Linked DNA regions of Homo sapiens: region 1 is linked to region 2. The links come from fine-mapping of genetic effects on gene expression. A gene starts in region 2. The other region holds a variant in brackets. All regions are shown on one strand. Distances are between the middles of the regions.

Evidence for each region.
Region 1: its variant is fine-mapped to the expression of OLA1 in whole blood (INTERVAL, PIP above 0.99).

Annotation. Positions count from the first base shown.
Region 1 is chr2:174,113,233-174,129,084 of GRCh38, forward strand. OLA1 (Obg like ATPase 1) reads right to left here. Exons shown (of 11, transcript NM_013341.5): 6 at 10,363-10,443; 7 at 9,948-10,045. Among named protein-coding and RNA genes, the nearest start is that of LINC01960, 96 kb to the left of the region's middle. RefSeq lists enhancers at 7,584-9,504, 10,777-12,403. The variant A/G (reference allele first, on the strand shown) is at 6,862.
Region 2 is chr2:174,240,371-174,256,222 of GRCh38, forward strand. OLA1 (Obg like ATPase 1) reads right to left here and starts at 8,162. Exons shown (of 11, transcript NM_013341.5): 1 at 8,082-8,162; 2 at 6,345-6,445. The coding sequence starts at 6,445. It also overlaps the pseudogene RN7SL65P. RefSeq lists a silencer at 7,948-8,467.

The DNA of each region.
Region 1 (15,852 bases), 130 kb before region 2:
CTGTGCCCAGTCAAATAATTATTTTTAACAAATTATGGTTTGCTATAACAGAAAAAGTTAAATCCTGTTTATCATATCAATATATAAAAACCAATCTGTGGTTACAGGTATGTTTTTGGGGGGTTTATTCTGTACCACTATTTTAGACTTGGCAATTTCATATAATTTTTAATTTCGGTTTCAATAAGAGCCATTGTATTTTCTCCACCAAAATTTTTATACATGATATTGCGTAAAAATGCAAGCTAAGGTGGGTCCTAAAATATATTGCTGTTGCCTCTTAACAATGTTATTAAATAGTTAATAAAATTACGAGACAAGGCAAAAACAGCAGCAGCAAATGCTTATTATCCTAAAAAAAAACCCACAAATGTTGTCTTGAGAATTGTTCTTTTTAACTAAAATCCTAATTTAGTTTATTAACTAAACAATTGGATGGAGATTAAACTTTCTGAGATAAAACAAAGCAAAATGCTAAAGTTGCTGACGTGATATTTTCAAAGATTTCTGGAGATTCACAAACATATCTTGTACTGTCGCTTAGCTGTCAGTCATCCTGTGTGGAACAGTCGCATTCAGGTCAAATGGATCTATTTCTACCACTTACCTGCTCCAAGAACTTGGGCATGTTTTATAATCTTTCCAACCGCCTGCCCTATCTGTAAAATGGGCATGATAATATCTGCTTGATAAGTATAATATCATACATCTCAGCAATTTCCAAGCTCAGAATGCCCATCACATAGCAGGAACTCAACAATAAATAATGGTTTGCTATGTATGTCTTTTAGTTTGGTATAAGAAAAGCTAAATCGGCCGGGCGCGGTGGCTCATGCCTGTAATCCCAGCACTTTGGGAGGCTGAGACGGGCGGATCACGAGGTCAGGAGATCAAGACCATCCTGGCTAACACGGTGAAACCCTGTCTCTACTAAAAATACAAAAAAAAAAAAAAAAAAAAATTAGCCAGCCTGGTGGCGGGCGCCTGTAGTCCCAGCTACTCGGAAGGCTGAGACAGGAGAATGGCGTGAACCCGGGAGGAGGAGCTTGCAGTGGGCAGAGATCGCGCCACTGCACTCCAGCCTGGGCGACAGAGCAAGACTCCGCCTCAAAAAAAAAAAAAAAAAAAAAAAAAAAAAAAAGCTAAATCAATTATATTAAATGGAGGAAGCGGGGAAGCAGGACATACAAAAGAAAAATGACAAAACTTAAAAGTCATGTTTGAAAACTGCTAGTGACCTTCATGTTGGACATCCATATACGTTCCTGGGGAAAAATCTTTTAAAATTTCATTTAAAAAGGCTAAAAATGATTACCAATGAACAGATGCTATTTGATCTTTTCCTTTTAAATTTCAAAATGGATTAAATCCAACAACATTTCCCACAGCCCCATAATACATTCTTTTAAAAGAATCTCTAAGGAAAATGCTGATTATCACCCAGGAATACTGATGACTACCCCTTGATTTCAATGACAAATATTTAAAGTACTGAAAAGGCACTGCTAAATCTTTGCTAATGAAAAGACAAAGCTTATTTCTCTCTCTGTTGGAGTAACCCATTCCTAAACTAATATGCAGAACTCTTATTCCAATGATGCAAATGCTTCATTTTGGCCAGGTATAGTGGTTCACACCTGTAATCTCAGCACTTTGAGAGGCCAAGGCACGTGGATCGCTTGAGCCAAGGAGTTCTAGACCAGCCTGGGCAACATGGGAAACCCTGACTCTTACAAAAAATACAAAAACTAGCCAGGTGTGGTAGCCTGCGCCCGTCAGGGAGGTCCAGACTGCAATGAGCTGTGATTGCACCACTGCACTCCAGCCTGGTCAAGAGAGTGAGACCCTGTCTCTGAAAAAAAAAGAAAAGGAAAAAAATGCTTCATTTTAGTAAACATTCAATTCAAGGCCAATGTAATAGTGTAATGAGGGTCATCTCGGAATTTGAGGATCAAATGAAATAAAAAAGCTGAAACACCGTAAGGCTCTAGACAAATGTTGGCTGCTGTTATTTCTTAATAAAGTTCAACCTATTTCTTTGAAGTTGTACATCGAGGGGCTTTTAAAAAGTGCTTCATAATTGGTAGCATGAATCAACAAGTCACTAGACAAGCATGGAAAAGGAAAGATGAAATTTGAAATAAATTGCAATTATTACTTTAAAGGCTGTTTAAAACACTTAGCAATCAAAAATATTTCTGGACTATAAGAAATCAACGAAAGCAAACTAGAAAATACATTATGGTTATTCTTAAAACCCAAATAAAATTTTAGAACACATTTAGAACATGTTTAAAATGTTTCAATGGTATGTACTTAAATAAAAACATATACGTTTTTTCAAGTGGTTGTCTTCACATTTTATTCCTTTTTGATGGCCCATTATGCTCTACATCAACTGACTCCTGTTTCCTTCTCCAACTTCAATTCCTATAACTCGTATTCTGTTTTATTCCATCTAGCTACCTCAGAGCCTTTGTACTTGCAGTTTCCTCTCCCTGAACTGAGCTTTCCATGGATTCTCTCATGGCATGTATCCTTATTTCATAAGGTCTTCCCCAGCCGCCCTAACTAAAACAGTTTCCTCTTACTCTGCTTTGTTTTTATTCACGGTCCTAATCATTCCCTGCATTATATTAAATGTCTGTTTGTTGGATGTCTATTACTCCATGAGACTGTAAGTCTTCCAGGAGAAAGGGCTTTTTCTGTTCACCACCTAAGATAATACATGACACACAGAAGGGCTTAATAATTCTTAATAATTATTTGCTTAAAAAGGAAAAAGAAAACAGTACCCACCTCCTCAATGAGCTCACAGTCTTCAAAAGGAACATAAATTTGAAATTTGCATTTATAATGACAGTTTTTTTTACCAAGTTTTGCTTTTCTTGATGTAAAGCATTAAAAATACAGATTGCACAGCAATGTGCAGTCCCAGCCTTATATAAACAGGAGTATATGCAAAGTTCATAAGTCGGTTATTTTAAAACACATTTTTAAAAAGCAGAATTTTAAAACTGGTCGTAAAAATGGTCACAGATACAAAAATATTTCTCAAATTGTTCTATTTCTACTACATTGTGAATTAAATAGGCTTTTGAGGGTGAGTCTCACATTCTAATGTTTTTGATGGGACATGCTTTCTAGGTCAATTTAGAATAAAGGAATATAATAGTTTAAGTAATGTTACTGATCTCAAATATAGATATGCCAATTCACTTTGCTCTTATTCTAGCCAAAGCAACAGCTGCCCACTAAGATAAAAGATGGGAAGAAACATGGTGAGATGCAGAAAAGGCTTATTTTCAAGGCCCTGAGATATGGAAGAGGGAATGAGAGTAGGAAAAAAGATCAGGTCTTATCTGTAACCCAGCCCAGAAAAGTTGCTCTTAAATTGGGCTGCAACCTCAGGAATGCTCTGTACGCAATTAGGAAAAGTTACTATGGCAAACCTAGATATTTGCATGGGTATCTTTTCTTTATGAATTCATTACACTTCATTAAAATCATAAAATTCTAGCCCTGGAAGGGAACCTTAGAGATGATCTTTAATTCTTTACTAACTTGCACTGCCTCACCCCCAACACATACATACATACATTCATACTCAGAGAGACTGAGATATATGAAATCACAATGAAACTGTTTTAAAAGGTTTTTAAAAGAATAAACAATTTTCTTTAAAAAATCATGCTACTGTAACATGATTTTACATAAAGACTGTACATATTGTAACAATGTAAACAAAGAATGATTTACTCTAATGGAAGCCAAGGGTGACAATAAAATCCTCTAAGCTGCAAATGGTGAAGTTATAGGGCCCAACCTGAAAGAGGGGATGGGGTTGTAGAGAACATGGCAGTGATATCATGGGAGTCTCACTGTTATATTTATACATGTAATAAATTTTGTTCCTTAATCCAATAACAGAAATAAAAACCAAGGTAATGTATCCAAAAGATGCATTCACAAGGCCAAAACAAGTTCTTTTTCCATTATTGAATACTTTTTGAGCTATAAGTAAATTTGGGAAACATTATTTATACAGAACACATTTTATATGAACAATCTCAATGAATTATCTTCTACATGAAAGGCTAAGTAATTTAAATGGCCAAGTTCAAAGAGCTACTTATAGTAGCAAATAAAGACCATAGCACTTGTATTTCAAATTCTAAAGTAGTATTCTTCTTAACACACCCAACTCCTTGATAGTTTCTACTCCCTAGGTTACAAATAGACCATATTCTCCAGTTTTTTAGGATTCGTTTTCTTTATAGAAACAATATTATTAATGGTCCCTAACATTTTGGGCTAGGCTTCAAGTCTATTTAACTCATCAAATAGTTAAACTACAACATTAAATCCAAAGGTAGATGCTGTGTCTGGGGAACATGCTGCACAGGAAAGAACGGTAGAGACAAATAATGCTCTTCCTCCTATCCCACACAAGCAGGACACATTAGGCTGTAAAACACTGACATTGTTCACCTTTCCTTTTCTCCACCCTTCTCCCAGGAAAACCTGTTATTCAAATCCTACAAACTATCTTGAACCTCCATTCTAAATCCTTCCCGAGGTCCTGCCCTATATTTCCCACTCCCAACAGTCCTGAGATTTCTGAGCTTCAAAATTCTCCACTACCCTCTTCACCAACTACTAAACTCCTGTATTAGTCCATTCTCACATTGCTATAAAGAAATACCTGAGACTGGGTAATTTATAAAGAAAAGAGGTCTAACTGGCTCACAGTTCTGCAGGCTGTGAGGCACGGCTGGGGAGGCCTCAGGAAACTTCCAATCATGGCAAAGGTAAACAGGAAGCAGGCACAGCCGGAGAAGGAGGAAGAGAGCAAAGGTGTAGGTGCTACACACTTTTAAACAACCAGATCTCATGAGAACTCACTCATTATCACGAGAACAGCAAGAAGGAAATCCACCCCTGCGGTCCAATCGTCTCATACCAGGCCCCTCCTCCAACACTGGGAATTATAATTCAACATGAGATTCGGGCAGAGACAAAAATCCAAACCATATCAACTCCGGTTGTAAAAGTGTAGCTCATCCCAACTCAGTGTTTTGGTAACAAAATATGACTCAGAGATCCTTAATCTCTAGTGCAGATTTTTAAGGGGATTGTTTTTGAATTATTCAACAAAGTGAGTAGGGTAGGGAAGCAAAGAAATTCTTTGTGTAGATGAATCATTTGTAATTTGAAGAACACTGGATAGCTATAAACCAAACTTTATATTTCATTTCCTAGAACATAGATGTGTGTACATGTATAGAGAATATATATTTTAATTTCACATGACAGAATCCTAAGGAACACTTAATTTTTTAAAAAGTACTTATAAACCTTTTAATCTGTGGAAGCTAGAAAAAATTTTATATAACTTTTCCTGTTTATGTGGAGTGAAATTCTTCAGCTAGTTTGAAAAAGATGAAAGTCCTGACATATTTGATAAATTACATCACTCACAAATCAGTAAGTCAGCAGATGGTGCTAATGAAGATTACAACGGGCACTCCCAAATGTATCACTTTCTTGAATTCAGTGAACCATCTGGCAAATAGAAATCATTGGCTATAAATAGTATTGCAAAAAATACAAACAGGCCAAGGGAAATTCCTAATATGCATAGGGTCAGTAGCATTATGTTCATATAAAAAAAGTGCTTTCGTATATAATTATCTCTTTCATAAGAAACCAGAAGTGCACTACTGTATTGTTATCTCTCGATAAGAATATGAAATTGTCGAAAGAATATTCAAAACCCATTTAATGAAAACCAAATAGGAATTCACAAATATTATTACATGTAAAAATATATTCAAATGCAAAAGTACATTTGACCAAAAAAGAAAAAAAAAAAAGATTCCTGAATGGGCAAAGGTTTTTCCCCATCCCCACTTCTTTCAGCCTTCCATCTCCTGTAATAAAAAGATCATTTTTCTTTATCATATTCTTTTTAATTCTAAAGATTCTGATCAGAGAAAGAAATAATCAATTCCACAAAATTCATTCACCAAAAAATTATTTGAAATCCTAATTCATAGTATAAATAATACTGTTAACAATAAGCTTTATCATAATACAAAGTAATCTTTCCAAAGCAGAATGTCTGTGTTATATTTCTAGCTTAAATGATCTTGTCAGAAACTGATGACCTCCTACAATAGTTCTATAGAAATAGTTTTTTATATTTATATGCATATATGTGTTTGTATATATATGCACACATACAGAAATAGAAAATTGTGTGTCAAAAATATACACACTTCCACCTACATATACACTTACTGAGATATAGTAGCTGTAATTTTTATAGGCAGCTCAAGAAATCAAGAAAATATATTTATTCCATGATTCCCCCCAAACCAAGCACATAATGTGTAGTATCCCCAAACTATTTTTAGTTGTTATGTACAAATTATGTGGAAAACTAATGAACACATAAAGATGGGAAAGGGGAAGGAACTGAATCATGGTATAATAAGAATAATAAAACATTTTTCTATTTAAAATGCATTTAGTGAACTTGACACATTGCCCTTCATTATTAAACAACTTAAAAGACTTTCCAAGTATTTGTCTACCTATCTTGAATCAATTTCATCACTCAGATTAATTGACTCATATAATATTACCCAAAAGGTAATGTTAAATGACTACAAGCCCACCAGGGCATATGAAAATGTGTGTATAACACACACACACACAAACACACACACACACACACACACAGTCTGCGTATCTAAAAGTTTAGTTATATTTTCCAGTTGAACATAAATATGTAGTATAATAAATAATAAAATATAATTATCCTTTATTAACAGTTTCAAGAAAGGTAGGATCACA[A/G]AAATGAAACATAATTGATGGCTGGTAGGTGTAAAAAATATGTAAAATTAGTTTATTCTACTGATTTCATAATTGGATGGCATATTCTACTAACAGAGCAGCAAGGGTGCAAAGATTGAAATTTAAACCCCTAATTAAGCAGTAGTTTGACAGTTCTAATGTCCTGTACCTGCTTGACACCATGACTCAGTAAGCAATCTCAAATGAAAATTAATACCGTCTATAGTATAATCTTAGTTATAAGTAACAGCTGATCGTGTTTAGAAAATGAAAACCTCAAGTGTTCAAAAATGCTTGTGCTCACCAAAAACAACAAAAACTTCTATATAGTTTTACTCATTCAAGAAACAGCAATTTGTAATAATAAAAAATGGTTTGTGGATTCACTTACAACATCTTGATTACTGTCATTTGATCATAACACAACTGCAACCAACCCGGCTGCCATGTCAGCTTCTCTTCAGGGGCTAGGTCTTTAGTCATAAATCAATGAAATGACTAATTCAATGACTAATGCTTGCAGCCATTCCAGTTTTTGCATCTCACAAAATGTCAATATAGCTACTCAATAACACAATAGACTTATCTTTCAAAATGCTTCCTTCTTTTCTAGGGTTGAAAAATAACACATTACCATTTACATTTAGGGTGAACTTCAGTAACTAAAGTGTTCAATACTTCTGAAATGGTGACCTGCTAAAATAACAACAGTTTTAGTCTCCTCTTGTGGCCAAAGTCACAAACCTCTCCTCTCCTCTTTCTTGATGGTTTAAAATAGTTTTCCAGATCTAAAAGACCCATGAAAGTATTTATTACTGTTTCCTGCATCAGTCTTATTTGCTATAGTAACATTACATGTTAATCTTAAAAAACAAAAACTTTTTCTTTTGCTAAAGAAGCAACTAATAATGCAAATGGAGCTTAGATGTAAACATTACCAAAAAACAAGATGCTAACACAATTAAAAGGATTTAGTAGTTAAAATGGATTTTAACTATTTACATCTGCTTTCAGTGTTATAAATGATGAAAACCTAGTGTTCATATCCCTCATAATAAAAATTTATTCTGCACTTTAATACAAAGGCTATGTTGCATAAACAGAGAGGATTTAAAGCTGTAGCAGAGTGGCTGAATGAAAGGAAAATGGCAATCTTTCTGGCTCCAGTAGATGCCATTCCCTATCACACAATATTTCCCACTCATAAATATATGACAAATACTTCCTCAATCATTTTTTACGAGCAGGGATGCACAGGGGGTAGTCAATGGCTAGCTTGAGGGAAAATAGGAACAGCAGGCGGCAGAAACTGTACAGAAAATGGCTATGTGGTAAATTCTCTTCTGGAACATCATTCAGTTACCCAGTCTTTGATCTTTCAGCTACAATTACACTAACTTCCACAAGATCTGGATCCCTCCCAACCCTCCCCCCAAGACATACACACACCAACCCCAAGCCAGATCATTAGTTATACATAAAACCTATTAAGATTTGGTTTTATAAAATAGGATCATTCATACCTCTACATTATTATAAATTAAAATTTGCTATTTAGACAAGGGTTTACTTTCAATTGGCTATAACCATGTCATCATCACAACTGGTCTCACAAAAAACATGGGGTGTCTGGCGACAGCTAAATCACAGACTGGCGTCTCCTAAGCAGTCTGTCTACCATTAGGGTCTGGGAAATGGTATTTACTATACAATTAGAGCCAGGGAGTTCTACCTGTAATCATCCAAATACAGGTGTGAGAAGTCCCTTTGGGCAAGGAAACTGACTCATCCCTTTTCATGTAAACTTTGATGTCTGTATTGTTTCACAGAGCCTCAGGAAACCTTACCATTCATACCACAATGAGAAGATTTATTAACTGAGGTCAAGTAATAAATTTTAAAATTCATTCCTAAAGGTAACAATTTTTAACACATTAATCATCAAATTTATAAGAATTTGAAAGGCGACAGAACTGATTATTTTAAAGTTAATTACCTGATGGAGGATACTGACCAGCTGAATGAAATCTTTATGTTAAATTTATGCTTTTTAGAACATTACCAATAAAGAGGCTAAATTCATCTTCCTATCAGGAACACAAAATGTCTTATAGTAATATCAACAGGGCATTTTTAGTTGCAGTAATTTCACAGAATTTATTCTAATGATTTATTGGAGTTAACCATCTGACATTAATTATTGTTTTGGCTTCCAGTCTATGAATGTTTATTTTTCAGTTTAAAGCCTTCTCACTCTTTGATATCATATGGAAATGAGAATTTTTAATGGAAAATTGAAACCATGTGCATCTAAGTACTTAATGAAGTACAGGGAGAAACAGACAATATAGTTTAGGAGAATTCAGATATTTTGCTTTGGATAGTTTTGATTTGTTTGTATGACTCAATAGTATAAAATACTTAAGAGTCCAGTGAGGCAAGTCAAAGTGAGTGGTATGCCAAATGTGGACATGCCCACAGGTACATGAACATATAATTTTCTGAAGTTATCAGTGATAGTAACAAATCTTGTACATTTTGGTTACATGCCAAAAATGACAATCAATACATGAATGCATAGTTTTTACCTCGATGTACTTTTAAAGCATTTGAAACAGGTACTGGTCTTTCCCCACACACAGTCTTTTTTTTTTTTTTTTTAAAGCATTCAATCTGGATTTTAAAATTCATGCCCAGCTACAACCCCAGGTGGGTATTTTAAAGTCACTTATAATATCAACACAGCTAGAAATTCCTAGTGTAAGAAGTTTTATTGTTGTGACTACATTTATTCTCATTTTGCAATGGAAATAAACGATAATGTCTAATAAACTTACATTTGATAAGTAAATGTATATAATTCAATATTGCTTATTTAATTCAGTTTTTCTTAAGTTCTCTAAGTCAATTAGAAGACTCATCTGTGAAGGTAAATACCAAGCACAGCTTTCTCATCCATTTTAAACTTTTTAATAAGGAGAAAAATATTAAAATTAAACATTGCCGTTAAGTACATATATGTGGGTGTGTGTTTGTGTGTGTACAGAGATGATGCATCTGGGTATATCTGGTGAGGAAAAACTTACCATTTGTTTTTCTTTCTAATGTAGTCTTTTTCAGAAAGATTAACCAAGTAGACCATTGGTTTTGAAGTCAAAAATAAGTGTTTATTCAACACTTCAATCTAAAGTGGGAGATGGAGAAAGAATCCCTTTTAAAAGTTTAGTAAATATGGAGTAAATCACTGAAGAATTTGAAAGTAAACATTCCTTAAAACAAGTAGGCATTTTCATTTTTATAATTCTTCTTTCCAAAAGATTAGTGGTTATGAAATATCATGAGTGGGGGAAAAGAAAAAAATAACAAGCCCAGGAATAAGCAATCACTGACAGAAATAAAAATTTAGATATAATGGTAAGTGTAAAATAACAACAACTCTAATTTGTTCCCTAGCAAATGAAAGCAAAGGCAGTAATAGATGGCATGATATTTACAACTTACCTCTTTGTCATTCCAATCATGATAGAAGCGAACAGGTTTCTTTTGATCTATAACCCAGGATTTTACTTTGCACATTATATCCTACACATGATTGAGAAAAAGGTAAATATATATGAATAACTAAACATTTAGATACTAAATATTAAAAAGTTTTCAAATTTTCAAAATAAAAATAGATTGTTTTAATGAAAGGGGGCTAGGTCACACAAATAATTATTTTCAATATCTCATTTAAAAACCAATTACTAATAAAACATTGTGGCATTAAATTTTTAATGTATAAAATGGACAATATTAGCAAAAATTAGTAACAGCCTGAAAAATGTCAAGACAATTCAATTACATCAAAGACTAATACAAGAGTTACTACCATTTCAATATTACCTAGTGATGCCATATAGAAGACAAACATGCTATTAGAAAATGGAGTGAGGGGATATACTGAAGAAAGACTAAATTATATTTTTCCCCTAAGAAGAAAAACAAACAAGACAAAATTGAGCCTATTATCGATGATCCAGCCTCCAAAATATTAAATCAACTGACCAGATCCCTTTTTATTTTAGATTAATTTTTTGCCAACACCTTCTCCCTGCCCACTTCTCCCGCAGCCGCACCCCCAATACCCCCAACTCCCCCACCCCCCGAACCTGCCAAAGCCTCCATTACACAATGGCAAGAGCCCTGCACTGGTGACCTCCAACCAGCTGCATTCACTTTCAGAACATCTCTCTCTGCTGGAAATCTAAAGGCCTTTTAGTTAGCAAGCTAGTGTGCATTCAGAAGGAGTAACTGCAGGAAGAGCCCAATGTGCTTTGTTTCTCTGGCCTTTCTTCACAGAAAGATTAATCATCTGTGAAATGGAAACGGCAAACAGCAAGTGACACAAACTGAACCCTTCAAGCCTTTCCTCATCAGTTTTGTGGTTCTGAATCTAAAAGCTGCGTGTGGCAAGGTTCTCCTTACAGGCAGGTGTTAATAAAAGGCTCTGGGGTCTGAAAGGTCAAATTTAGCTCTTCCAGAAGAAGTGCATTTGAGAGTCATCTGGGTGTCTGTTGTTGTTGTTACTAAAGATAATTTATGGATATGTTTTAAATATGCATTTCTCAAAATTTATTGTAACACAATTATTAGTAATCAATTTCCTGGATTTTTATCAATGTATTTTACTTTACCATAATCAGTTATTCTTCTTTAAATATCCATTTGTATAAATTATCTCAATATTTAGTATACCTTCCTTCCAAATTTTGCTGTTACCAACAGGAAAAATAAGGAAAAAGCCTTATATCCTTAGATCCTGATTTGAAACCCTCCAGGCAAAGGACTTCCCACAGATTTTAACAAGGAAGGGGCAAGCTGAAAACTTTTAATGAAATCTAACATGTTCGGCTTAAGAATAATCACTTTTACTCTTCTATAACTGAATTTCACTCATAAATGTTTAAAAGTGGCTAATGTAACACCATTTCCTACAAGGAGAAGATCAAAGTGCTATATTACAAATGCATTATGATTAAAAAAGCCCTGTGCAGCCTTGCTATTAACTGTTCTTTAAACCCTAAAAGGCTTCCCATAGATCTCACTTGGCACTGCATATACAACCTTTGACAAGTAATGTAGACCATTTTTATTCATTGCCTAAAATTGTAGGCAATTATGTGCGTCACACTGGCCACCTGCAAATTCTGAATGCCTGCTCTAGTTGTCAGTGCAAAAAACTAATGTCGGAGGGGATTAATCTAGGGGGAGAGAGTCCTCTTTAATGGCTCCAGCAGGTGAAATGGCCCAGCTGGTTACTATGATGAGTGGCCAGAACAGCTTATGTAGAGACACGCAACAAGATTATACAAAAGAAAGAAAAAACAGTCGTACCATCTTATATTTGGTTCCATTAGTTTTTTCAATTAAAGAAAGAAAACAGACAAAAGAAAGCCAAACAAAAAATAGGGGAAGAAATTAAATTTTAATCATATAAAAAGTATAAAATACTTCTGTAACTACAAACATTTTTACAAAACCTCAGAGCCTCAATAAGTGCTGATCACCAGTGAAGGAATTTCAGTATTTCTCTTTCATTTTAAATTAACTGGACCATTATTTCAGATATAGAAATCTTATCACAAAAGCATTTTGGCATTTGCTTTTTCTCACATTACAAATTACATTACAAATTAGAAGCACTCAAAAAATTTTTTGCAGTCAAGTTTTAATTAAATAGAATTCACTTATAATCAAAGTTCTTGAACAGCACAGTATTCCTTAAAGCCACATTCAAATATTTTTAGAGAAATTTATATATTATAACCTAGTTTTTGGACAGTTGAAATAAAAACATTTTGTACTCAGTGCTCTCTTAATTATTCCCACAAAAGATTTAACAGCCAAGAAAAGACAACTTAGATTTACTAAAAGATGTCAGTTTTATTTAAGACAAATCAAAAATAGATTGCTTTTCAGATAAGACTATCTTATATAAATGATCAGTATATGGTATAGTTTCAATGTGCTCTTTTTCTTACATAAAGTAAAAATTCTAATTTTAGCAAAAAATTAAAAGATGTTATATTCTTTATCGGAAAAACTTCTAAACAGATGAAAGAAAACATTTGGGCTTGTTTGGATATAATACTTATTGGTTGATTGAATTTATTTCCTTATGTTCATATATATAAATACATATATAAATAACGATGATTAGAACAATAAAAGGTTCCAGTTAACTGAGCTTGGTTAACTGGAAAAAAAAATTGAATACCCAATGCATTCAGAAGTTGCCTTAGGTTCCATATTTCTTTACTATCATTATATAGAAATGCAGATGTAGGGGTACTAAATTGGGCTGTTTTGGTAACTTTAACAAATCCCTCATTTTCAAAATAAATTCTGTACATTATAGAGATACATAAAAATTCCTGGTCATTTGAACTTTTCGGTTAGACTGCAGTTACATGAGTGGACTAATTCAAGAGGTAACAGTATAATGCTTAAGCATGGGAATAAATCCTAGCCACTTACCAGGTCTGTGACCTACTTCATTGATAAAATGCAGAGGATGAGATCTACCTCCTAGGGAGTGTTGTGAAGATTAAAAGAGATAGTGCATATAGTGTTTAGCACAGTTCTTGGCACAGAATGAATTCTCAATAAATGTGAGTAGTTGCCATTGTTGTTATGATTGCTGAAAGATTAAATCCCAGTGATCTACAAAATGGCAATATGTTCTCTTGGGTGCTCCTTTAAAGCATATGTATACTTTTTCATCTGTATAATTGTTCACTAGTCCTTTTCTTCAAATTTCTGAGTTTCTAAAAATACTGGCTTTTTTCATGAAATCTCAAGTCAGGCTTCTAATCTTAACATTCTGCAAGAACTAGCTTTTGCTAAATGACTATCTTTTAACTGCAAAGAAACTTAACCCAAACTCACCTTGAATACCTCACTCTTCTGCTTTGACTCTTCTTACTCAGAGCTTCACATTTAAAATTAGAAATGCTCTATTTTCTTGATATATTTTATTATTGTTATTGTTAACAGCAACTGTAATGTATTTAGACTCACAGCTTCATGTGTGACTTGCCTAAATTCCCATAGCTAGTAAGTGGCAGAGATGAGATTCAAATTCAGGTCTAAGTGACTTGAAGGTTCATGTTCTCTTCCATACCCTGGCATATTTGTCTTCCTTACTGCTTTTATAACTGTTCCTTGTTTAGCCTAGACATCCCCCAAGGTTGTTACCCAAAATCCTCATTCTCATTCAGGCTATCAGAGAAATTCAATATTCTTATTTTAATTATTTGGGTACAATAGCTGATCATTAATCCATGTATCACAAAAATAGTAATTTTTCTTTGCAGACAATTATATAATAATCCAGTCATTTATTATACATTCCTAAAATACTAGACTTCTCTATCTTGGTATCTTCAGTTCCCATAGCAGGAATTATTAACCTATGATCCATAAATAGATTGCAGGGGTTCCTTACCACCCTGAAACTGTACATAAAGTTCCGTTTATGTGCCTTTGAGGGAAGATGGCACATAACTTTCAAATGCTTTTCAAAGGGATCCATAATCCAAAAATCCAAGAACCATGGCTATTAGTGACTTTGATGGCAATACTCAAATGTCCCAACAACAGTTAATTAAGTAAATGTTCTAGGTCCAGGGACTCCCAGACCAGAGGTTGAGACACTGACCCAAAACATGCTTTAGCCAGACCCTGCACTGAAAATTTCTCTATCCTGTCCAATACTGCACTGATAAAAATTCCACCTTTTATAATGTTTATCTAACAAATTCCAGTTAAAATCATAATAGGGATGTTGGAGAATATTATATATTAAATATATCATTATTCTAAAAGAACTACTTGCTCGAGGGTAAAAAAATGTTTAGGGAGAAAAATATAGGACTTGTCCTACTAGATATTAAAATAAACCATAAAACTATAGTAATTAGAATAGTATGACACTGGCACAAGAAGACAGATATAGATTAGAAACAATCTAAAAAGCCAGGCATGGTGGCTCATGCTTGTAATCCCAGCATTTTGGGAGGCTGAGGCAGGAGGCTGGCTTGAGGCTAGGAGTTTGAGACCGTCTTGGGCAACATAGTGAGACCCCATCTCTACAAAAAATAAAAAAATAAAAAATTAACTGGGCGTGGTGGTGTGTGTCTGTAGTTCCAGCTACTCAAGAGGCTGAGGTTGAGGGGGGTATTGCTTGAGTCCAGTATGAGGCTGCAGCAAACTACGATCACGCCATGCACTCCAGCCTGGGTGACAGAGCGAGACCCTGTCTCCAAAAAAAAAATGAAAGAAATAAACATTTTTTTTTTAAATAAAATATAGGCTGGGCACAGTGGCTCATGCCTATAATCCTAGCACTTTGGGAAGCCAAGGCAGGTGGATCACCTGAGGTCAGGAGTTTGAGAACAGCTTGGCCAACATAGCGAAACCCCATCTCTACTAAAATAAATAAATAAATAAATTAGCTAGATGTGGTGACAGGCACCTGTAATCCCATCTACTCAGGAGGCTGAGGCAGTAGAATCACTTGAACCCGGGAAGTGGAGGTTGCAGTGAGCCGAGATTGCACCACTGCATTCCAGCCTGGGGGACAAGAGCAAAACTTGTCTCAAAAAAAAAAAAAATAAAATAAAATAAACAAAGAAAATCTAAAAAGCCATTAATTGGAGATTTGCTAATTAAGTTATGGGGCACTGATACAACAGAACACTTTGTAGTCATTAAGATGAGATATATCTATATGTACATTTGCATGGGAAAATGTCCAAAATATACTGCTAAGTGAGAACAGCAGGTTTAGAACAATGGAATATGGTTAAGAATATGGATTTTGGCCATATTCCTCAAGATCTGAGTTCAAGTCCTGGTTCTAACACTTTCTGGCTGAGTAATTTTGGGGAAGTTACCTAACCTCTCTCAGCTTGTTTCTGTGAAACTGTATAACTCCAATAAAATATG
Region 2 (15,852 bases):
ACAACACAGCCCAGAACTCCTGGGCTCAAGGTATCCTCCTACCTCAACCTCCTGAGTAGCTGAGACTACATGTGGGCACCACTGAGACCAGCTCAAATTTTTTTTTAATTTAATCTTAAGTGAAAAGTCAAGCAAACTGGCAAGAGATCATTGTAATACATATCCAACAAAGAACTCATATCCAGAATAAAAAACTAATCATTAAGAAAAAAAAAGACTTTTTACATAAGATATCCAATAACATATGGAAAGATGCTCAAAATCACAAGCCATCAAGAGATATCTCTGATATCCATAGATACCTGTCTTCTCGGTAGACATGGGAATCTGACTCTTAGCTTAATTTTATCAGCTCTTTAGAATGAAAATACTCAGATCATCAGTATTTGCAGCCTAGAGAATAATTTTCCTCCTGTGAGTTCCTTTGAGCAATCAAGAATGGAGCTTCTAAAACACAAGTGAGCTAAGAATCAACTAGGCAGACTTCTAGGAACACATAGACATCACATATTTTGTATCAGGAAAATAGTGGACTGCAGTGGATTGAAGATGGCCACACATTTTTTGTCACTCCTCCCATCAAGAGGTAGAGTCTATTTCCCCTCTCCCCATGTCTCTGGGCTGGTGTCATGACTTGCCTTGACCAAAAGATTTCTGTGTAAGTTTGCTATGCCACTGCCACACCTCCATTCTCTCGAGAGCCAGACGCCAAGATATAAGGAAGCTTGGTCTAGAGACCACTTAGAAAGAGAATGAGGCCAAGTATAAGAGAAGTGCCCCAGACTTCCAGTCAATCCAGCTAAGGCCCCAGATCTGTTAAAATGGCCATCTTGGATCTTTCAGTCTCAACTAGCCACCAGCTGAATGCAGTCACATGAGGGATCCCAATGAGACTGGCAGAAGACCTTTCTAACTCACTACATTCCCGACGAACAAAAATTGTTACTATTTTAAACCATGAACTTTTGGAATGGTTTGCTACACATCAACAGATAACTATACAATGGTGATAATTCTCTTGTGATTTTTTCTTTTTTTTAGCATTTTCTACAACCTTTTCCCTCAGCAATGGTAAATGGCTTTCACAGACGCTGTGATTGGTCTGCAGAAATTTGGGAGAAGGCAATTTGCAGGGACACCAAAATGCATTCCCAGAAGGATCAGCTAAACAAGACAATTACTCTCCTGGGGCAGTTTGTGAGTGTTTGAACACAGTATACTAGTTGCCCATAATATCCATTTTCCCCTTCTTTCAGAGTAATCGTTTTTTGTTTTTTCTTTTTAAGACAGAGTCGCACTCTGTGGCCCAGGTTGGAGTGCAGTGGCACAATCTTGGTTCACTGCAACCTCTGCCTCCCAGGTTCAAGCCATTCTCCTGCCTCGGCCTCCCGAGTAGCTGGGATTAGAGGCGTGCGCCACCACACCCAGGTAATTTTTGTATTTTTAGTAGACATGGGGTTTCACCATGTTGGCCAGCCTGTTCTCAAACTCCTGACCTCAAGTGATCCGCTTGCCTCAGCCTCCCAAAGTGCTGGGATTACAGGCGTGAGCCTCTGCACCCAGCCAAGAGTAACAGAATTTTTAACCAAACATGTGGCTGTCAAAATAAAGACTACATTTCCTTGCCTTCCTTGCAACTAAATTCTTGTGACTAAATTCTGGACAAAGGGATGTTGGCAGAAGTATGGTATGGCAGTTTACAGGAAAAAGGCTGCTAGTCAAGTTTGGCCCCCTGACCCTTCGGATAACCAGCTGCCTGGAATTCACAACACCTTAGACCAGCAGCCGCCAACCTTTTTGGCACCAGGGACTGGACCGTGAATTGGCTGATGGAAGCCAATTTTTCCACGGACCAAGGGTGTGGGGGATGGTTTCAGGATGAAACTGCCCCATTTTAGATCATCAGGCATTAGTTCGATTCTCATAAGGAGCGTGCAACCTAGATCTCTTGCATGCGCAGTTCACAACAGGGCCTGCGCTCCTCTGAGAATCGAATGCTGCTGCTGACCTGACCGGAGGTGGAGCTAAGGTGGGAATGCTCACTCGCCTGCTGCTCGCCTCCTGCCATGCAGCCTGGTTCTTCACACGCCACAGATCGGTACCAGTCCCCAGCATGAGGTTCGGGAACCCTAGCTCTAGACCATGAGGATGAGGCCACATCCTAGGGATTGCCAAGCTGTGAAGTGAAAGGAGCATGGGTTCCTGAGGACTTCATAAAGCAGGTCCACTATACCAAGCTATGACTGCAAAATGTACATTTTTACATGAAGAAAAAAAACTGGTTATCTGGGGTTTTCTGATGCTCTTAATTGAACCTAATCCCATCTGATGCAGTGGATAGCAACAAGAAGAGCTATCCCTCACAGAAATAAAGAAGTTTGGAACACTGTATCAAAACGTACTTTCGCCCCCAATATTCTCTAAGCCTCACAACCACAATAATACACTGCTCCAACAGGAGCTCATTTATAAAGGGTCACTCAGGTAAGAAAAAGCAGTACAGAACTAGAAACCAAATCTCCATATTCTTTCTACTTCATTAAAAGAGGTCATTTAATTGCCCAGCACGGTGGCTCACACCTGTAATTCCAGCAGGCGTGAGCCACCACACGGGGCAAGGAGACAGGCTTTTTTGTGTTTTTGTTGTTTTTTTTTTCAGATGGAGTCTCGCTCTGTCACCCAGGCTAGAGTGCAGTGGCGCGATCTCAGCTCACTGATACCTCCGCCTCCCAGGTTGAAGCAATTCTCCTGCCTCAGCCTCCTGAGTAGCTGGGATTACAGGGGCGTGCCACCACACCTGGCTAATTTTTGTATTTTTAGTAGAGATGGGGTTTCACCACGCTGGTCAGGCTGTGAAACCAGCCTCAGGGCAGCATGGTGAAACTCCATCTACAAACAATACAAAAATTAACCAGGCACGGTGTTTTGTGTGCCTGCAGTTCCAGCTATTCAGGAGGCTGAGGAGTAGGGACTGCTTGAGCCCGGGAGATTTAGGCTGCAGTGAGCCATGATCATGCCACCGCACTCCAGCCTGGGCAAGAGAATAAAATCTTGTTCAAAAAACAAAAACATGTCTCCTTATCACTAAATCTACATCCAGCCGTCAAAGGGGAAATATGTATCCCATTAACAAATAATTACTAAATATCTACTATGTTCCTAACACCATCGTGTCCCGTTAACAAATAATTACTAAATATCTACTATGTTTCTAACACCAGTCTAGGCACTAGAAATATACCAATAAGCAAGAACGAGACAATCGGTACCTTCCTACCTTCACAGAATTTAAATTGCAATGGAGGGGAATGTCAAACCACTTATTAAATTAGATAATATATATAAAGTACTCAAAATAGCGATTGGCATATAGTAAATGTTCAATATCTGATTAGCTATAAATATTACCTCTAAGTTTCTGGGTCATCAGCCTTATGCAGACTAAAAAGTAAGCCTTCCTATTCACCCAGCTAAAAACCAAGAGATTCTCTAGATGGTTTTGTACTGAATGTCCTTACTTTTGATCAGCAGGCCATCCTTTAGAGAACCGTCTCCCTCCCACAATCTATATCTTGTAGATCTATACAGAAGCACACAAGTCCGGTCGGATTTCCTTACTCAGGAATTGGAATTACAGGAGAGACAGGAAATGAGAAACACCCAGAAATCCAGGGATTCACATGGCTGAGCTCCACATGGACCCATTTCTGCCAGCACCACTTGGCTCTTATCCCTCTTGAGGCCTGGCTGTTCAGATTGTAATTCACTTATTCCAATAAACCTCTTTTTCCTGCTGAAAACAGCCAGAATTGTGTTGCTTACAAAGAATCCTACCTGATACAGTTGTGTGAAGTAAGATCATTCTACAAAAAGTAGTGTTTACAACCAAATACAATTGCCGAAACTCATTAAACTGTACCTTTAAAATGAGTGAATTTTACTATTTGTGAAGTATACCTCAATGACACTGGGAGGGGAAAGCATTTTATTTAAAAGTGTAAACAGCACACACACTTATTCTGAATAATAAAATATTTTTAGGTTACTTCCACGTACATTAATTTCATTATGCTCTATGACTAAAAAGCTATGGTCGTCCCTCCATAGCTGCAGGGGATTGGTTCTAAGATTCCAGCAGATTGAGTCCCTTATATACAATGGTGTAGTATAATACCTAATGCAATGTAAATGATAGGTAAATAGTTGTTTACTATTTTTTTTACTGTTATATTCTCATTTTTTATTTAATTAAAAAAAAATTTTTTTTTTTTGAGACGGAGTCTCGCTCTGTCACCCAGGCTGGGGTGCAGTGGCGGGACCTTGGCTCACTGCAACCTCCACCCCCCGGGCTCAAGCTGTTTCTCCTGCCCCAGCCTCCCGAGTATCTGGAATTACAGGCTCCTGCCACCATGTCCGGCTAATTTTTGTTGTGTTTTTTTAAAGTAGAGATGGGGTTTCGCCATGTTGGCCAGGCTGGTTTCAAGCTCCTGACCTCAAGTGATCCACCCACCTCGGCCTCCCAAAGTGCTGAGATTACAGGCATGAATCACCATGCCCAGCCAATTTTTTAAAAAAATATTTTTGATTTGAGATTGGTTGAATCCAAGGATGTGAAACCACAGATACAGAGGGTTGCCTATATGTACAGAAAACACTTAATATGGCCCATTTTAATATAGTCCCATTTAAAATCAAGTTGTAGTAACTGCAACAATTCTAGAATGAGAAGTATGTCAATATCTCAAAACTTAACTTCCTTACTAGTGCAATAAAGCTCACAACATAAATAATGATCATAGCTTGCTTTCACGTTTATTGATAGCACCCTACAGTATTTTGATTAATTATTTGTTTTGCTTACATTTCAACTCTCTACTTAGTCTTACTCTGCAAGCAGACTATATCACAGCAGGAAACCCCTTCAAAATGAAAACCTCTTCAAGCTCCAGGAAAGACTGAAATCAGGACAGCCACACTTGCTCATGTTTTACATTACATGAATTTAAGACATGCCTCACTTGGTCACGCCATGCTCTGTTCATTGAGGAATCTCTATGACAGGAGCTCCTCGGAATACCTAAGAACATGATTGTCCTACTTGCCACCAATCTAAAAGGCCACCCTTGATCACTTTCACAAATCCACACTGAATCTGCTACCTATTAGTACACCCTAATCACTTTTGAGATGTTTTATATTTTAAGGTTAGTGAAAGGATAAATAATGAAAAAGGAACACTTGGACCCAGTGCAGTGGCTCACACCTGTAATCCCAGCACTTTGGGAAGCCAAGGCAGGCAGATCACCTGAGGTCAGGAGTTCAACACCAGCCTGGCCAACATGGTAAAACCCCGTCTCTACTAAAAATAGAAAAATTAGCCGGGCGTGGTGGCACATGCCTGTAATCCCAGCTACCCGGGAGGCAGAGGCAGGATAATTGCTGGAACCTGGGAGGCAGAGGCTGCAGTGAGCTGAGATCACGTCACTGCACTCCAGCCTGGGCAAAAGAGCAAGACTCCATCTCAAAAAAAAAGAAGACTTTGAACACTTAAGTTGCGTGTGTATAGAGTTATGATAAACCCCACATATATTTCCTATCACTCTCTTATTTGCATATATTCAATTCACTGTAACTTTGAAAACATTACAGCTGGGCTCAGTGGCTCATGCCTGTAATCCCAGCACTATAAGAGGCTGAGGCAGGTGGATCATATGAGGTCAGGGGTTCAAGACCAGCCTGGCCAACATGGTGAAACCCCGTCTCTACTAAAAATACAAAAATTAGCTGGGCGTGGTGGTGCGCGCCTGTAATCCCAGCTACTCAGGAAGCTGAGACAGGAGAATCACTTGAACCCGGGAGGCAGAGGTTGCAGTGAGTCAAGATCATGCCACTGCATTCCAGCCTGGGCGACAGAGTGAGACTCCATCTCAAAAAAAAAAAAGAAAAAGAAAAGAAAATATTACAAAACTCAAATTTCTGCTCTCAGAACTTTCAGATTTAGACTCTTTATAACAGCAAACCTTTTACGATTTCCACTACGAAATTCAAAACTGTCACCTCCTTCTCCATCAAGCTTATTATGGTGGAGCTTTCAAATCAATTTCCTAAAGTAGCCTACTGCATGGCCTCTGGTAGACAGCCTATGTAGGTACCACACATAGCCAACCAGCACTGAAATCAATAAAATACATCTAAACTAAAGCCTAATTTTGCAATATTAATAGTCCAGCTTCCTGGCCTCTTTTCTTCAACTTAAAGTTTAATTACCTCACGGTTCCCATTTCTACAATAGGACCCAAAATATTTACAAAATGAAAATCACAAAAGCCCCAACGTTCACCTACCCAACATTTGGCAATCCAACAATACCAATTTTCAGTGAGGTTCCAAATCTTCCAATGATTGGGGGTGGTTTAATTCCATCACCTCCCTTTTTAGGGGGCATCTGAAATACCAAAGCAAACATATGAACAAAACTTTTTACTATCCACATGGACCCAAAACACATTTCATCACATACAATATATTATTGAATTAAGATTAAGAACAAAACATACTGTATATAGCGATCCAAAACTAACACAGAGCTAAATCCACTTTTTTTTCAGCAAAAATGTTTAAAAAGTTCTGTAAACATATCCGTTGTCAAAAGAGTCATTGCTGAGAAGTCCCAGAAAGACTGATCTAAAATCAATATTTGTTGGGCCGGGCACGGTGGCTCAGGCCTGTAATCCCAGCACTTTGGGAGGGGGAGGCCGAGGTGGGCAGACTGCTTGAGACCAGGAGTCGAGACCAGCCTGGCCAACACGGAGAAACCCCGTCTCTACTAAAAAGAAAAACAAATACAAAAAAATTAGCCGGCCATCAGGCGCGCAGCCTGTAATTCCAGCTACTCGGGAGGCTGAGGCTCGAGAACTGCTTGAACTCGGGAGGCGAAGGTTGCGGTGCGCCAAGATCACGCCACTGGGCTCTGCCTGAGCGACAAAGCTAGGCTCTGTCTTAAATAAATAAATAAATAAATAAAATATTTGTGGCACCAGGAATCAAAGATAAACTTAGAGTTTAGCTACCAATCTTCCATCCAGACTGCTCACAAAACACTTTATATCTTAACCTGATATATGGTTATATGAAAGAAAGCATTTGGAAGCAAGTACACAGAAGACAGTCAAAGAAAATTCCATTGTGGAACCACCAGCAGCCAAGTCACCCTTCACACCAAACCATTCCTCTATAATCTGGAATCTTATCTTTCCCATTCGCCCACAACCCCCATTTTTCACATAGATGAACACCCACCAGGTACTGGGGTCCTTCCACCAAGTCCCTCCCACCTTTGGCACTGAAGGTACGGCTCATCAGTCCTCATAAGCAACCTCCAAAATCTACATTATGGTTACTATTTCTAATGGTAAATTAATCGACGGAACCTTTTTATTTACAAGTCGAAACTTTCTCTGTCCCTTACTAGTTCTGTCTCCAAATCATGCGTGCAGAATTACTCCCACCCTTGGACTGCAAAGTGAAATCACAAAGACCGCTAAGCTCACGTCTCAGAAGCTGGGAACTAAAACTGTCCCAGTCTTCTGGCTGAGAGTTGTACCTCCTAGGACCACGCTGGGGCCCTGCCCTTGCAGTAGTATTCCAGCCTCTGATCCCTGACCCCGAGGGCCAGGAATTTCCCTTCTCAGCGTCCTGACACCTGTTCCTGGCCAACTCCCAGGCCTCCAAAGAACAGATACAGGAACAGCGCCTGTCGGGTCCTCTGGCCTACAGAGAGGTGGCCGGCAGCCCACCCAAAGTGGGCCCCACCCCCCATCCTCCTCTCCGGACTGGGCCACCGGGCGTCCTGGCGTCGGGAGAAGGCTTTCCCCAGGGCTTTCCCGCGTGAGGCGTAGGCCGATCTCCCGACGCGCGGCCTAGTCCGACAGCGCCTCATTCATCCACACATCCCCAAGCCACCCGCTGCCCTGGCCCCATCTTGGCCACTGGGCCCGGGCCCCGCGCCAGCCTCAGGGCAATGAGCCCAGGCGCCGAAGACCTGGCGGAGATCGCGCCCCCGGGCTCCCTGAGGGCCTCACCGTGCTCGGCCTGGGCGATGACACGGGGTCCCAGCGGCAGCGAGAGAAAGGTCCTGCCGGCAGCTGGAGGCGGGGAGGAAGGAGGAGAGAACGCAGGCCCGTCCCCTCCGCCGAGCGGCACGCACGACGGCGGCGACAGCGGCGGAACGGGCGGGCCGGGCGCCGAGCGGCACCTGCGCGCAGACCATGGGCCCCGCCCCTCCCCGCCTTGCCCGCGCGTCCCGCCCATTGGCCTAACCGGCCGGGGAGGCGGGAGTAGGGCGGGAGGAGCCCAGGGTGGGAGGAGCCGCGCGGCGGCAGGGAGCTGGAGAGGGGAAGGCGCTGGCTAGGCCGTTCCCGGGAGCTCTAGTCTTCCGCTTCGGCACGTGGGCTTCTCGGTTCTAGGTCTCCGCTTCCGTCTGGCTGCGCGGCCTGGGTTACCTGCTCACGTTCACTCGCGGGCCTACAGCCCCAAGCTTTCCCAGCTGGACTGCGGAGTGCCTTGGGCCCTGACTTCCCTCCGGGAGATCCGGGGCGTCTGAAGTCAGGCAAACAGCCACACCAGCCCCGAGGACCGCGTGGCCGCTAGCCCATCTCCCTTTTCTATAACTTTATTCGCTCAGTCTGTGCGGAGAGAAGCTGTTAACTAAAAGTTCTTGAAGGAAAAGGGGCTAAGGGAAACTTTGGTCTAGGGATTTCTTCCTCGCCTTATAGTTAAAGCGTCGCACACAGGTACTGGATCACAGAATGCGTTTAATTGAGCCAATTTCCCCCCTTTTCCTCTTGGTAGTTGAGAGCAGGGGCCTTTGAAATTTGGGAATTTCCAATCTGGATTTCGCCACTCATTGACTGTATGACCCTAGACAAATTAACTTCTCTGGACTTCAATTTCGTTCTGGATAAAATGAGGCTATTAAAACCACCTTATGAGGTTATTCGTGTGAGAATAAAATGAGACAATGCGTGTTGAGCTCATAACAACAGTACTCAGCACATACAGAAAAGGCTTGTGAGTAGTCGCTGTTGTTAATATTAGGATTTCATCCCATCTCACCCACATCATATCAATACCATGAGCGCCACTGGAGAAGGAATTCTTTCATTTAGGTCCTGGCCTTCAGATGTCATTCAGGTATTTGTTGTAATGAATATGATACCTGTCCAAAAATTGTGACACTAGAAGCTCCTTTTAAAGGGATTAGTTGCTATTAATATTAAAGGATGTAAATAGGTCGCCATCCCCATTTTACAAGTGAGGAAACAATATCAGAAAGGTTGATTAATTTGGATGAAGTCACACAACTAGTAAATGGCAGCAGCATATTTCAAACCACAATCTAACTGAAAATCTGGCCGTAATCCCAGCACTTTGGGAGGCCAAGATAGGGGGATCAGTTGAGCCTAGGAGTTGGAGAACAGCCTGGACAACGTGGTGAGACCCCATCTCTACCAAAAAACAAAAATTAGCTGGGTGTAGTGGCACATACCTGTAGTCCCAGCTACTCAGGAGGCTGAGGTGAGAGGATGGCTTGAGCCTGAGAGCTCAAGGTTGCAGTGAGCTATGATCACTGCCGCAGCACTCTAGCCTGGGTGTAGAGCAAGACCTTATCTCTAACAAAATAAATACAAATAAAAAGTAAAACTAAAACTATCTGAAAAATCTGTTTCCTTTCAGCGAGAATTCATTTTTATTTTTTGAGATGGAGTCTCACTCTGTCGCCCAGGCTGGAGTGCAGTGGCGTGATCTGGGCTCACGGCAACCTCCGCCTCCCGAGTTCAAGCAATTCTCCTGCCTTAGCCTCCTAAGTAGCTGGAATTACAGGTGCACACCACCACACCCAGCTAATTTTTGTATTTTTAGTAGAGACGGGGTTTCACCATGTTGGTCAGGCTGGTCTCGAATTCCCGACCTTGTGATCCACCCACCTCGGCCTCCCAAAGTGCTGTGATTACAGGCGTGAGCCACCGCACCCAGACGAGAATTCATTCAAATAGAGACTCCCTATAAGCTCTGAGCCAGTATTCATAATAAAATTGCATTAAGGCTTTTCCTTAGCCCTGTAACAGTGCTCTAGTGAGGTGAGTTAAAGAGCTTTCTCTACAATTTTGGAAATTCTCAAGGACACAGGCAACTTGATTTGGTTTTGTATTACTTTTTCTTAATATTATATATTAATGTGCCCTATTTATATTCTTGGTCTAGTACCCTTGTCACCAAAACTATATATGTATAAAACAGCTATCTTGGTGCACTTTAACTATGAAAAAGAGGGCTAACTAGCCCAAATTTTGTGGCCACTGTGAAAATAACTCTCAGGAACAGCCCTTCAAAGTGATTCCTGAATCATGTACTGATATTTTAGTAATGAAGCTCTATAGTGGATTCACACTGCTGCTTGTGGAAATAGAGAGGAACCATTACTTAAAAAGCTTGCCGGGTGCGGTGGCTCACGCTTGTAATCCCAGCACTTTGGGAGGCCGAGGCGGGCGGATCACGAGGTCAGGAGATCAAGACCCTGGGGAAACCCCGTCTCTACTAAAAATACAAAAAATTAGCCGGGCGTGGTTGCGGGCAGCTGTAGTTCCTGCTACTCGGAGAAGCTGAGGCAGGAGAATGGCATGAACCCGGGAGGCGCAGCTTGCAGTGAGCCGAGATTGCGCCACTGCACTCCAGCCTGGGCAACAGAGCGAGACACCGTCTCAAAAAAAAAAAAAAAAAAAAGCTCAAGAGGCCAGGTCTGGTGGCTCACACCTGTAATTCCAGCACTCTGGGAGGCCAAGGCAGGCAGATCACCTGAGGCCAGGAGTTCAAGACCAGCCTGGCCAATATGATGAAACCCCGTCTCAACTTAAAATACAAAAATGAGCTGAGTGTGATGGCGGGTACCTGTAATCTCAGCTACTCGGGAGGCTGAGGCAGGAGAATCGCTTGAACGTGGGAGGCGGGGGCTGTAGTGAGCCAAGATCACACCACTGCACCCCAGCCCGAGCAATAGAGCAAGACTCCATCTCAAAAAAAAAAAAAAAAAAAAAAACTCAAGAATCCCAGAGAGCCCTCTCTGCCCAGCAACCAGCCACTCCAATACTGATTGAAAATGTTCCCCGGTCATGGAGTACTAGAATCATCTTCAACTTATCACTGTCTTTTGGCCAAATCTAGATACTTCTTCAATATCAGAATCTCTCAGATCTACCCATTTCCTTAAATCTACACTATCAAGTTCTTAATCACTTGTTTCTCTATAACTACATCTTTCTTACCTGCACTTTTAACCACCTTTAAAGCGCCTTCCCAAAACAGGTTACACAAATCTCAGGCAGTATTCAGGAGTGGCCAGCTGGTGCTGCCAACACTTGCCTGATAATAGGACTCCATTTCCAACTCACTGTCACTGGGGGTAAATTTGTATTCACAAGAAAGAAGATGTGATTGGCCCAGTTCTGGTAAAGTTCTAACAAGGGTCCCATCAGCAATGGCTACGTGGGTAAGGGTCACATAGTCAAAAAGCTGTATGAGTGACCTCTCCCTGCCTACCAACGAAACACATAGTTCTCAGAAAAGACCCTAGTGGGTATCTACTATTCTACAACGCTAAAGGAAGACTCAGTGAAACAAACAGGATATTAGTAGTTAACACTGGCCCCCGCCACGGTGGCTCATGCGTGTAATCCCAGCACTTTGAGAGGCTAAGGTGGGCGGATCATCGGAGGTTGGGAGTTCAAGACCAGCCTGACCAACATGGAGAAACCCCGTCTCTACTAAAAATACAAAATTAGCTGGGCATGGTGGCGCATGCCTGTAATCCCACCTACTCGGGAAGGCTGAGGCAGGAGAATCGCTTGAACCCGGGAGGCGGAGGTTGCGGTGAGCCGAGATTGCACCTTTGCACTCCAGCCTGGGCAACAAGAGCAAAACTCTGTCTCAAAAAAAAACAAAAACAAACAAACACACAAAAAAATAGTTAACACTAATGCCAAGCCTAAAAAAGGGACTTTGAATAGAGGAAAGCATGTTTTTGAGCCTTTGCACAAAGGGAAGTCTATTTAGTACCCATTGGGCTCAATGATTAAGTTAAACCTAGAGGAAAGAATCAGATGTGGTCTAGAATGAAAACTGAGCAAAAGATTTCAGTCAGAGGGGGAATGAGAATAGACCATCAGGTCAGGTCAACAGAAGGTTGCTACTAAGGAAAGATCAATGGAATGAAAAAAAGTAGAGCCCATGGTTTCACTCTTTGCTATCGTTACCCTCTCTGGATTTTTCTTTCCTTACCAGGCTCAGCCAATGACCAGGGATCAAGTGAGTTGACCTAAGGTCACAAAGGATCTAGAGAATGGCTTGGGGTCAGTAATTTATCCCCAAATACAGAGTAGCTCTGCTGGAAATTCAGAGATTTATTGATCCTGTGCAGAAAGCTAAGCAACAGGAGACAGAAAGAGTACACAAAGAGAGAGGATGAGAAGGAAAAGAGGAAAATAGCAGCAACGTATTCACCATGTGCTAGCACGGCCTGACTACACCTGTTGGCCAGCCCCGTCCACATCTGTGAGGGGCATAACAGAAAACAGAATAATAGTAATAACTACACTAAAAGGGAAATTGAGTCCTGATAATAACTTTAGGAGGGGAAGGGGACAAGTGCACAAAAATAACTACCCTATATAGGTAGTTAACTTAAATTGCACTTTTCTTTTATTACCTGTATCAGATGTTTTTCTCTCTCTACACTAAGCTTACTATCATATCCAGAATTCAGATGAAGGACTAGGATAGTCCCATATGCTTAGAATATCCTACTCTGAACATTTTTGTTATTGTCTTTTATATAAAATTATGTTCTTGAACACCTACTCCATCCCAGGCATTGCTGTAGGCCTTGGAGTAGTGAAGAATAAGATAAATATGATTGGCCGGGTGCGGTGGCTCACTCCTGTAATCCCAGCACTTTGGGAGGCCGAGGTGGGCGGATCACGAGGTCAGGAGATCGAGACCACCCTGGCTAACACGATGAAACCCCATATCTACTACAAATACAAAAAATTAGCCAGGCGTGGTGGCGGGCACCTGTAGTCCCAGCTACTTGGGAGGCTGAGGCAGGAGAATGGTGTGAACCCAGGAGGCAGAGCTTGCAGTGAGCCGAGATTACACTATTGCACTCCAGCCTCGGTGACAGAGCGAGACTCCATCTCAAAAAAGCAAAAAACAAAACAAACAAACAAACAAAATATATATAATATATTATATATTATATATAATATATTTTATAATATATATAATATATTATATATTATATATAATATATTTTATAATATATAAAATATATTATATATAATATATAATATATTTTATAATATATATAATATATTATATATAATATATAATATATTTTATAATATATATAATATATTATATATATTATATATTTATATTTATTTATATATTCATAAATATATATTTATATATAATATATTTTATAATATATTATATATAATATATAATATATTTTATAATATATTATAATATATAATATATAATATATTTTATAATATATATAATATATAATATATTATATATTTATATTTATTTATATATTCATAAATATATATATTTATATTAATATATTATATATATGTTTTGTTTGTTTGTTTTGTAATATATATATATATATATATATATATAATCCTTGCCCTGAAGGAGCTAGCAATCTAGTGGAGTAGACAAATAAGTGACTACACAAATAATTATATAAGAAGCTGATAAAATATATAGAAGGATACCTAAATAACTACAGTTTGAAAGTTTAAAATAAACCATCTTGGTTTTCACTTACCTTCACAACTTCTGATATTATGTACGAGGCAGTGCCTAATCATCATCCCCTTTCCTTTTCCATCACCAGCAATACTCAGACCCTCTTAGGCATCAGCAAAGAAACAGATTTTCCATTTTCTTTCTTTCTTTTTTTTTTTTTGAGACAGGGTCTTGCTCTGTTGCCCAGGCTGGAGTGCAGTGGCCAGATCACAGCTCACTGCGGTCTCGACCTCCTGGACTCAAGCGATCCTCCTATCTCAGCCTCCCAAGTAGCTGGGACTACAGGTGTGCCCCATCATGACAGGCCTTTTTTTTTTGTATTTTTTGTAGAGGCGAGTTTTCTCCATGTTGCTCAGGCTAGTCTCGAACTCCTGGAGTCAATTGAGCCACCCTCCTAAGCCTCCCAAAGTGCTGGGATTACAGGCATGAGCCACCGTGCCCGGCCCAGATTTTCCATTGTCATTCTTATGCTTGAAGAGTCTGTTTCTTGAGTTATTGAATTTGGACCATAAGTTACCAGTGAAGTAAAACACAAGTAATCAATTGCTTCTATTCTAGAATTTCTCATAGTATTTGAAAGAATGCTGATTAAAAGAGCCATGTATCCTAGAAACTGCTGGAGTTTTGTAATATCTATTGTAATTCATGGTTTAAAATTTAGGAATCATTTTGTTCTTGTTGTTAAGATACAAAGTCTCCCTATGTTGCCCAGGCTGGAATGGAGTGGCTATTCACAGAAGTGCAGTGGCTATTCACCAAGGGCTGTTCATAGCACACTGCAGCCTTGAACTCCTGGGCTTAAGAGATCCTTCCACCTCAGCCTCCCAAGTAGCTGGGACTACAGGTGCATAACACCACACCCAGCTAATTTATTTTTCTTTGGTAGAGACAGGGTCTCAGTATGTTGCTCAGTCTACATTCAAAGTACTAGGGCTCAAGCAATCCTCCCTCCTCAGCCTCCCAAAGTGCTGGAATTACAGGCATGAGCCACCATGACCAGCCTCAATTTAGGAATTCTTAAAAGAAAACTATATATATTATTTTCTCAGAGGCAACATAAAAAGACATATCCTAATCCAGGAAAGTAAATATATTATCATTGTATTAGCTAGCTAATACTTTGAGATATAAATAACAGAAGTTTTGATTCAATGAAAATGTATCATATATAACAGAAAGTACAGAGCGGGAGAACAAGGGTGATAGATTCAATAGCTCAACACTATTTGCAAGGAGACTAGTTCTTTCCATATAATGTCCCTGTCTTCCTTGGGCTTCCCTGGTTTTATTCTTAAGCTAACAGCAAGCTATGATAGCAGTTCTAGGCAGCATAACCAGAATGACAATATTGGGGTAGAGTGGGACCATCTCTTTCAGTAGCTCTCTTTTAGTAAAAAGGGAAACATGTTTCAGATCTCTCCAGATAACTTCTTCTATTTCACTGGGCAAAATTGGGTCTCATGCCTGTGCCTGAACCAGACACTGGCAGGGAAAATGAACTTACCCTTAGACCATTTAGTCCATCCTTGGGACTAGAGGAGAAGTCAACTTCCTCTGAGGCACATGGCTGTGTGAAGTATGGATAGATATCTGAGCAAAAGCAGGGTTGTATAAGAAAAGGACACCAGCAATATTCACTTCCTGAACCATTTTTTCAAGATAACACATTGAGCAGAGTATGGTAATTCTGGAAAATATCAGTGGCATTGGTGGTCATCTGATATGATATATACAAATTGTAATATGATAAACGTTGGCACACCTAGTTCACTGAGAAAACATTGAAGAAAACTGATCATCTTCTAACAACACTTAATGGTGTTATAAAATGACAGCATGTGAAAACAATATGTCTACTAACCTTTACAAGATACTAAAAATTCCCATCATGGAAGTGGAAGGTTGCTTACCAAAAGGTGTCACAGTGGTCACATCGGTTGAGCTGGAAATTGGGGAATCTTGTGCATGGGCCTAGGTCAC